Linked DNA regions of Homo sapiens: region 1 is linked to region 2. Evidence: fine-mapped expression QTL. A gene starts in region 2. The other region holds a variant in brackets. All regions are shown on one strand. Distances are between the middles of the regions.

Evidence for each region. PIP is the estimated chance that this variant, and not a neighbour inherited with it, causes the effect. A credible set is the group of variants that fine-mapping cannot tell apart.
Region 1: its variant is the best candidate, but not a certain one, in a credible set for the expression of THSD7B in coronary artery (GTEx, PIP 0.73).

What each region holds. Positions count from the first base shown.
Region 1 is chr2:136,705,389-136,710,771 of GRCh38, reverse strand. No RefSeq gene overlaps it. Among named protein-coding and RNA genes, the nearest start is that of THSD7B, 57 kb to the left of the region's middle. The variant T/C (reference allele first, on the strand shown) is at 2,720.
Region 2 is chr2:136,763,033-136,768,415 of GRCh38, reverse strand. THSD7B (thrombospondin type 1 domain containing 7B) reads right to left here and starts at 2,871. Exons shown (of 28, transcript NM_001316349.2): 1 at 2,729-2,871. RefSeq lists an enhancer at 2,388-2,889.

The DNA of each region.
Region 1 (5,383 bases), 58 kb after region 2:
GCTAAATGACATGTTAATGGGTGCAGCACACCAACATGGCACATGTATACATATGTAACAAATCTGCACGTTGTGCACATGTACCCTAAAACTTAAAGTATAATAATAATAAAATAAAATAAAATAAAAAGGAGCTTATAGTTAGTCAAACAATAATAGGAATAATAATAATGGAGAGTGATAAATTCCACACTAAATGCAGGCACAACACACTAGCCTAGCACAGAAAAGTACCACCTTATTCCTTACCTAGAGTTATGATGCAAACTTCTGCCACTGAAATCTATTAGTAGGGATTTATTAGCCTTTATCTTCTCTAACTAATCTTTTTCCTCTATTATATACAGAAATAAAGGTTTAAATCAATCGGTGTAGCCTATCTTCTAAATGCATAGCAAATAAACATAGCGAATGTGTACAGAAACCACCAAAAAGATTTATACATATCTTCCTTTATTTTCCTGATTTATTAATGAAGTCACAATTACAAGGAATTTTAAGTAAGGCTGTTCTTGGCTAGGGAAAATTCCTCAAACTCAACATCAAAAAGCACTATTTATACCTCCCAAGATTCTTTATTCTCTAGTTAAATAGAAAATGCCCAATTCAACGATGTTCTTAGCTTTAGAGATCTTCTGAAGTCAGAAATAGTCACTAAAAATTGTTAGGATTTGTTTTTAGTCATGAGGATTTACTTAAGAACAGGGGTGGTGCAAAAGGAGGAAAGAAGAACTTGAGAAGAGACAACTTTCATGTATAATCAATCATGTATGTGTTATGTTAACTACAGTAATGGGTAGAAGGGCAATCATTTGTCCTGTTAAAGTTAGGGTGACTCCAAGTCAGAACCAATATTAGCCAATGGCAGAACAAAAGGCAAATTTTATAGGATTTTTGAAGAGAAGGAACACAAAGGTTATACAGACATCAACATAATTCAAAGGAAGGTAAAAGTCCCAGCTCCAAGAAACTACAAGACAATTGGTGTGAGCTCATTTGTCACAAGCAGTAAAGGATGCTAGCAGGTAGAAAGAGGGTGAACTTCAGAAATACATGGGTAATTCAGACTGTAAAATTTGAGCAAAAATCATAGAATAAATTGAGTTCTATTCCATAGACTAGATGAAACATGCTGCTATGAAGAGAAAAGAAGAGGGAAAATAACTTCCTAAGATTCATTTCTTTCTTTTAATTACCAAAACAAAATCTATTTAGAGATAGAATCTCTTTCTGCTGCCCAAGCTAGAGTTCAGTGGCACAGCCATAGCTCACTGTAGCCTCAAACTCCTGGGCTCAAGTGATCCTCCCACACCAGCCTCCTGAGTAGCTAGAACTAAAGATGTGTGCCATCATGTTTGGCTATTTTTTTTTTTAGAGAGAGAGACAGGATCTTGCTATGTTGTCCAGGCTTGTCTCGAACTCCTGGCAATCTTCCTGCCTTGGCATCCCAAAGCACGGGAATTACAGACATGAGCCATTGCACCTGGCCTAAGGTTATTTTCTATTTGTTAATTTACATGATTTTATGAAGACTGAAAACTTTTGGTGAACCTGAATTTAAGCAAAGCCAGCCCTAATTGATGCAAGAGAGTAGTACCAACCTCTTACAGCCAAAAGGTTTCCTGTACTCTTTTTTTTTTTTTTTTTTTTCAGATGGAGTCTCACTCTATCACCAGACTGGAGTGCAATGGCATGATCTCAGCTCACTACAACCTCTGCCTCCTGGGTTCAAACGATTCCCCTGCCTCAGCCTCCCAAGTAGCTGGGACTACAGGCACGTGCCACCACACCTGGCTAATTTTTTGCATTTTCGTAGAGACAGGGTTTCACCATGTTGGCCAGGATGGTCTCAATCTCCTGACCTCATGATCCGCCCGCCTTGGCCTCCCAAAGTGCTGGGATTACAGGCATGAGCCACCAAACCCAGCCCTTCCTGGACTCTTAAGCAGGCTCTGTAAACAGAACTCTAATACTAAAACTCTTCCTCCAGAGGGAAAGAGGTAGTAGGGGAGAGTAAAACACTTCTATTCATAGTGTATATCTTCCTTGTTTCTAAAAGGGAGCTTAGGGGTAACTTAAAAGTATATAGTAAAATCATTAAGGTACTGGTGCTCTGTCATCTCTATTTCTCTGACACACCTTGCTCATAGCTCTGCCCATGGTAGAAGTAGGAGTAATACATATCTAACGAATACAGATGGATTAATTAATATTCAGCAGAATAAACAAAGCTAAGATGCAATCACTGGCATTTTCTACTAAAAAACTAAATACCTGGCCCCTTGCAACCAACCTATCTAGGAGAATCTCAGAACTTAGTAAAATGCTTGCTTCACAGTAGATCCTCTAAATAACTGACATTTCAATGAACAAATGAATGCAGTGGATTCAAATGGCAGGATTGATTCTTTCATCCTGATTCTCATAAACCCCCAAATCACTAATGCAGCATTAAGTGCAGTTAGATATTAATTGAGGCAGAGTGGCCAGCTTCTCTCTGCCCTGGCGTCATAGTTTCGATAATCATGGATATATTTAGGATGTCGCAGTCAGAAAATTGTTCTTCTCCAAGGAAAAATTTCCCAATTATCAAAGGAAGTGTCTTCAGGTCCCCCAAATGAGTTCACAAAGACATAGATGTTGACCTTAAGGAAGGGATTTTTTTTCTACTTTCTCTTATTCAAATGCTGTGCCTAAGTTTGCAACTTCATGGTTTATT[T/C]GCAGAAGAGCTTCTGCACGCAGGCATACTGCCTGTCTAGAGAACACGCCATGAGCCCTGCTTCGGAAGACCGCACACCATTTAACCAAAGGATTTAAATCCATGGTCATATGTTTATCTCTCTCCACTTCATTACACTTGATGGAAAAGAGAAAGCACAGAATATTTTCCAAGCAACTGGCTTCTGGCTTTTTGTTTTTCAAGTGGCCTTTTAAGTGTGGAATGCCATGGATAAGGTTCGGCAACCACCTTCTCAGGGATGGGAAAGGTATACTTACGAATGGGATGTAGTTTAGTCCAATTTATATAGTTTATCTGAAAATATTTTTTCAAAGCAGGTGATGAAGCAAGGTGACACTTCAAAGTTTCCTGTCAGTCTTAAGAAAATATAAAACTCACGTAAATTAGTGTGCTTAGGCCACTCTGATCCTGATATCCTTATTTGTTTATCATAAGTGTGCCACAATGTCACCCTCCACTGCACCACCATCCCAGAGAGGTTACCTCCTCAAACTGCCTATTAAGCAAGAAAAGAAATAATTTCTTCCTTTGTATGTGGTGTGGTGACAAGAATCTCCCAAAAGAGTGAAGCTTGAAATTCAATTAGAGATACCTAAAGTCAAGGAAAGTCTTGTTTGAGTGTATTTCTCCACAATTCTACTGTCCTTTATTAGAACAGCATTTCTGGACCACATTTGTGTGTTGATATGATGAAACCTCCTGAGTCTGTCCCAGAAACAAACATGTAGACAAGTAATGTATATATTTCAGGTGGTCCACAGGATCCCCCTAAGCCCATTCATGGAATTCCTAGGGAATACTTGGGTTCCAGGTTAAAACTTCTTGCTCCAAAATTTGCTTCTTTTCCCTGTGTGTCCTGCATTGGTCAGAGTAGGAGAAATATCTCATTATTTTGAAAAAAAAAAAAAAAGGAAAGAAGAATCAGGAACTCTTGGGCAACCTTTAAAATGACACACACACACACACAAAAACCTGTAACTTCTAAATACCTGAACCTAACTTTTGATTCCTAATTGAGGCTCCAGAGTTTTCAAAGACAATGAGTACATGATGCATTCTTTCATTCATCAAGTACTTACTGAGTACCTCCCAAATGCCAGGTGCAGTAGTAGTCATTAAAGTTAGAAATGAAAGGTGTTCTTTTGATTTATAAGGAGCATATAAAATATAGACAAGTAATGCATCATAATACAGAATTATAAGTGCTGATATGGAGGTTAAGGTGAGTGTTATATGGTAATACAAAAGATCGAAGGGTGTGAGGGGCTGGAGAGCAACAAGAAAGTCTCCATGCAGAAAATACTCCCTGAGCCGAGTCATGAACAAATAGCAAGCCAAGGGAAAAAGGAGGCTTGAGCAGCCTGCACAATGGTATGAAGGTCAGAAAGAGTGTGATGCTTTCAGAGAATGGCAAACAATGATATGTCTAGAGCCTAAGAAGTGGTAAAAAGGAAAGTTGAAAGAGTAGGCAGAGGCTATTTCTTGAAGGGCCTTGTGGAGCATGCCAAGCAGCTTGGATTTTATTGAAGGAAAAGTAGAGCAACTGAAGGAGTTTAAGATGAGGAGTGCTGTCCAGCGAGCATTTTAGAAAGGTCACGAGCAGATGCAAAAAAAAATTAATTGCTGAATTGCCAGAGTTCTAAGATTTCATAGAAGAGGTGTCAGTCATTCCAACTCTAGATTATTCCAAAACAAATAACCCTTAGAGCATTTAGACACTCATGTTGCCCAAAGATCCTTAGATTTATTTGGATGAGCCGTTTTTTTCTTCGCTATCCAAGTCCTTCCAAGTGCAGAACATAAATAATGACCACATTCCCAATAAAGATGAAAAGGAATATCTGAAATACAGTGAATTAGATTTCTACCACAAAGTTAGTGGCTTAAAACAATACGAATCCATTATTTTATAGTAGGTTAGAAGTTTGACTCAGGTCTCATTCAGCTATAACCAATGTGTTAGCAGAGCTGCATGCCATTCTGGAGTCTTTAAAGAAGAAGATATTTCCTTGCCTTTTCTAACTTCTAGATGACACTCAAATTCCTTGGCTCATGGCTCCCTTCCTCCATCTTCAAAGTCAGCAAGTGAAGTCTCTCTCCCACTCTTATTCCATAGTAACATCACTCTCTGACCACAGCTGGGAAAGGTTCTCCACTTTTAAACACTTGTGTGGTTAAACTGTGCACATCTGGATAACCCAAGATAGTCTCCCTCTCTCAAGTTCTATACCCTTAATCATATCTGCAATGTGAATTAACAGTTTCATGATTCAGAGGATTAGGACATGAGCATTTTGGGGTGGCAGGCAGGAAGGGGCGTTATTCTATCTCCCACAAAGAGATTTGGCAATTTCTTCTGCTTTCACTAGTACTACTTGACCAGTAAAAGACAATTCGGCAACAAAATGTCACATAATTTCTTCTATTCTGGGGTGTCTCCAACTCACTTAAAGCATTTGACAAGATGCATAATTATGTCTAAACAAATTCCTTATTTTAGAAACACCAACTGGCTTCAATCCTCAGTTGAGGAGTGTGTTAAGGCCTTGAATGTGTTCTCAGTATCATCAAGCATTGCATAGAAAGAGAAATCAGTAAAAGAGTCAGTCCTGCCATATCGGGCCAACAGTGCAAGTTAGCATG
Region 2 (5,383 bases):
TTGGCAAGACTTTTTTTCTTTAAAGGAATCATACAACTCCAGTTTCAATTTGTGAAGTATAATTAAAGTGAGTTGACATGCTTTAGAATTGTTCTTGTTTGGACATTCTCCCTCCTTTAACTTAGAGCCTATCTTTTTATTCTGCTTTTTCGGTCTATCATTTAAGGACAACATTCTTTTTGCTGATATTAACAAAAGAGTTATTCCTTCAGAAATAGGATCTGTAGCAAGCAGACAAGGTCCTTCATAGCCCTTCTGATGAAGTACAATTTAGTACCATTTTCCTTTCATTCCTTCCCTACTTTCTCTCAAAAGGCACACTCAGCAGAGAACAGAAAGGTACCTCTCGTTACCAATTTGTTAATGTCAGTCTTCAAACAGTAGAGTCTGTATTTACATTGTTTATATGATCGGTAATTATTTTCTACCTGTCTAACAGTGTTCCTCTTTCTTAGCCTTTCAACTCTCTAACAATCAACAACTTTGATGGAAAACAATGGGCCAGAAGATTAAGAAATATTGTAAGATCATTTCTCAAGTATTGATTTAAATATTAAGGTTGACATAAAGTGAGCTCATCGTATTATGAACCCTCAAAACAGACTATCAAAGTCCACCAACAGTAGACAGCCCTTTCCTGGACCACGTATCTCCAAGCCCTTATCACAGATTAATCTAGAATATCCAAAACCCTGAATGGTTTGTAGGTGTTCAGGGCTGCTGGATCTGTCTGTGCTGATTTATACGAGACTATCCGATGTTTTTAAAGTCAACAATGACACCTACAATTTTTTCAGAAGTATCTGTGTATATTGTTACAGTGTCAGAAGAATTTTCTTCATAATTTTTTTCACTTAAATTTGCATGAAAAAGAGTTTCTAACCCTCAACTCTCAGCAGGTAGATGAAGAAAACACACACACACAAATACACACAACACACACACACACACACACACACTTCCCAGGGATAGAAAATAAAACAATTCCAGGGAATCTACCAGATTAGATCAACTACCCTCAGAAAACAGAGAACTGGCCACATTACTTTTCAAAAGAAGACTCCTATTATTAATGGCACTAAGGTTTAAAAACAGCAGTCTGTCAAAGTGAAGCCTCAAGACAGAAACTTTATAAACAGCTTTTAACCCACAAAGACACGAGCTTTCACTCACCACTGAGTAAGACTTCTTGATTTGGTTAGTAACACCCTAAGTGGCTTTCAGGAAGCCTTCACCAACTGCTGAGTAGACAGTCAAGAGCACAAAAAGGCTTCCCTGGAGATTACCTCCTCCTAGTTACTCGAGAAACTCAGATTGCCCTGACACTGCCAGACAAATAACTGTATCCCTTTGACATCCAAAGATTACCTGTCAAAAGGAAACTCCAAACACACACGTTCACACGCACGCGCATGTATACACACACACACAAACACACACACACCCCACCACAGTCTGGTTGGCATGAGCCCTACCTGCATGGGTTACCATTTCCATGATAACAGAGCACTCACAGGTGTACCGCTGAGAAACACCAGGCAGACCGTCATTTAAAGAGCTCCAAGGAGTCTGAGGGTGGGAAACTGCCGGCTTTCAGCAGACCACCCTGGCAATGAACAGAGCGCCAAGGAACCCTGGTATCTTCCGTAGAATATGCCACGGTCCCATAATCTTAGTGGAACTTCACCTTGACTGTACAGTATTGAATCGCAATACCTCTTATGGGAAGCTCTGAGCTCAGACATTCCAAAAGAAAAAAGTACCACCTTCGCCAACGAAAGTTTTTTTCTTGTCTTTAAAAAGGGATAGAGTGAGAGAGCTTAACGCCCCCTCCTCAACATTCCCTCGTCCCCTGCAAAGTTTTCCAACTTCAAAATACGCGGTCACCAAAGAGCGGGGTTCATTTGCTTATTCAAATAACTTTAATACTATGGGACATGTAAGACAGCAAAGGGGACAGGTGCAGATGGGCGATGCAGTAGAAAATATGCCTGTCCCCCCCTCCCTGCCCCTCACTCTCAAGCCCCGTTCCCAGTTTCCTCTCCACAAACAGCAGGATATCACGTCCGAGCCCAGCTTGCCCCTAGCCACTCGCAGGGACAGGGGAAATGTAAACTGTTGCTACAGCCTCCTGACACTCCACCGATAAATCAGAGGAAGCTGCAAAACTTCTTGGCTTGCTCAGCTATCCTCCACTGGCACTGAACGCCTATGCACAGATTTCGCAGTCAGCGCTACGGGAAAGGAAACCCTCAGTCAACCTGTTTGCAAAGCCTGCAGAACAACTCCCGGCCTTTCGATTTTGGGCGCCGAGGCTCTCCGCGCAGGACGGGAAACCCCCGGTTTCCTTCATCAGTATCCCTCAAACCAAGCTGGAGGTGAAGGGAACAGAGCTCCTGCTGCCCGGGTCCCAAGGTTCGGTCCCGTTGCATGAGGTCGGTGCTCAGGTCGCCGCGTGGGGCGTCCCCGCCCGCCTAGAGGGTCTCCGCACACTGCGCCCCGGGCAGCCCACGCTTCCCGCAGCCCCAAGCCAGAGGCGTCCGAGAAGATCCGCTTCCAAGTTCCCGCGTCTGGCTGGGAGAAGGGGCGACGATGGCTGTCCGGCGAGGAAAGAGCAAAGTCTGCGCCGGCAGCGCGCCCCCTTCCCCGGCGCTGCCACCCCGCGCCCCAGTCGGCCGGCCAGGGGGCCCGGCATCCCCGACTCGGGGCTCCGCGTGCTTGCACTCACCCGTCTCGCCAGAGCCGCCGCCGTAACCTCTGGGAGCCGCTGAGCCCCGAGCTTCCCGAGCGCAAGAAAGATGGTGGTGTGTGTCGGAAGACCACCCATTCCAGCGTCTGGCAACCCGGCGGCGACTCTGGCTCCTCAGCACTGAAGGAGGAGGAGGAGGAAGAGAAGGAGGAGGAGGAAGAGAAGGAGGAGGAGGAGGAGGAGGAAGGAACGGCGCAGTCAGACGCCATCTGCTGTACACCTCTGCGCAGCCATTGGCTGCCTGGTGCGTCCGAGAGCCGCGGGGCGCGGGGCCGCGGGGAGCCACCTTGCGCCTCGCCTACCCCGGCAGCTGTTCCCCACCGCCCCCTCTTTCTCCCCCCTCTCCTCCGCCTCCTACCGCCTCTGCCGCGCACCCGCACGACCCTCGGCTCAGCCTGCTCCCCAAGGCGAGCGACCGCGGGCGCGCTGGCCTGGACCTCAGTTCCTCTGCTCCCCGCAACTGTTTGCCGCAACTTTGAAGCTTCGGGGTGCCGGTGCGGGCTGGGTAAGGGGACTCCCCAGCTGAGCTCAGCCCGGAGTACCCAAGCCACTGAGCCCAGGAGAGGGTCGAGCGCTTTGCGCCTCGGAGGTCCATGAAGTGATGGGGGAAGAGAGCAAGAAAGAGTGGGGGTGCCCTAGGCCCCTGTTGATAACGCGCCCCAACACGCACACATGCGCGACACTCCGACACACAGTAAAACACACACACCGAGCCATCCCGCAAGGTCCGGATGGTCTGGCGTTCCTCTGCAGTCCCCGGGCACGAGAGGGCTTCGGTGTTACTAGGAGAAAAGACAAAGAAAATCCTATCTGGGGAGTACCCCTAGCAGCATACGTGGGGGAGAGAGAAAGGGAAACATTGTGGTGACTCCGGGAAACGCCGGGAGCTGGGTGCATACCTGCCTGGACATCCCCCCTGTTGCGGGGCTCCCAGCGACTGTCAGCCCACGCCCACCAGAGCCTGGGAAAACCCCTAGCTCTGGGGCCTCTGTTTAAAGGATTTGCAGTCCCGGGGCGCGGGGACCGGAGTTGCGGGAAGGAGCGCCTTAGGCTCCTGGGTAGCTCATGCCGGAAGCAGCAAAGGAGGTGGAGAGTCCGAGTCAGCCCAGGTGAGGCAGGAGTGCAGACAGCGGAGAGCACGTGGGCAGTCGAGGAGCAGAGTCACAGCTCAGAAAGTCGTTTGCTTACTCTCTGACACTTGTTCCAAACCCTTCTGGTTTTTGACACCTTTGATCTAGGGAACTTCTTAAGCTTGTTCAGAGAGATGAAGTTGCTTCAAAAGGGAGAAGGGGCGGGGGGAAGCATGAGGACTACCTATTGCCAATTACAGGATATTTTGCCTGTCAAATCTCTTTAAATGTGTGAGCCCAGCGACAGCAGGGATTGTATCTTTTCTATTTTATCCAATGCCTGGCACACCATGGGTGCTTAAAATGAAGCAAAATAATAATGATAAAATTAAAGCTTGATGTCATAGAGCAAATTAGATTCAAGAGATAAATAGAGAAGCTAGGATCTGTCACAGATAAAAAGAAATCAAAAGAATGTAAGTGCCATTGTAAAGAAAGATGTGAATATATTGGTAAGGGGCTTCAACTCAGCTTGCTGTGGGATGATGGGTTCTGAAAGCAGGGAAGCCTTACTTAATATTTTAAACAGCAATCGCTATTCTCCCACTACAGTCACATTCTGGGTTATGCTTTTTTTTTTTCCTGACATCACTGTCTTAAAAATAAATCAGCTGCCAACCAGATCCCAGAATATTTTCTTAAATCCAAGACCATGATTTATTACTCTCAAGAGATAAAAGGCCAATCCTGTGACCCAGGGGAGAGAGAAACTGGTCCATTATGTTTTATTGTAATCTCAATATATACAGATCAATAGCCAATGAGTCTCATTTAAGTAACTTCAGGAACAACAGCCAAAGAAAAACATTTCTGTTTTCTTGAACTATTATACCCAGGCTTCCCAGGTTTCAGTTTTCCCAGAATCAATGCTGCATTTTCAGGCCACACCCCCTGCACACACACCCCCATATGGGAGAAAGACTTGTGTTTGCAATCTGTCTGGAAAAAAAGATATCAAGGATGACTTCTGAGTATGGCATGTATGGACATCTTAGTAGTTATTTGTCCCCCTCCCTCACCAGAGACAATGATACGTATATTTTCCTTTAGGCTGGCAATTTGCTTTCAACGTGCATTCTGATTTAATATGCCAGCCCATTCTCATTAACCCTTTGCTCTACGTCAGCAATCACTTACGATACCCAAGAATACTTTGATTCTTAAGACACAACTTTTCTCCTCTGAGGCATTGTTTGTGTTTGGTCTCCTGGTTTTTGAATCTAGGATATGAGATTATAGTCATATGGTAATTCTGTTGGGCTTCTTAAAATAAAAAAGGAGAATGAAATCTAAATTATTTTTGAAAAATAAAGAACCATGAATGTTAAACTTGTTACATTTGATTCCTTTAGAGAACAATCACTTTTCATTAAGGCACTGCTGACAACATATATTTCAGTATAGTCAAAGAGTATAAGATGTCTGAACTTTATCTGTGTGATTACATACAAATTTTGTAGACGGAGAATGCAAGCACAAGACTCATTCTAACTTTCTCTTTCCA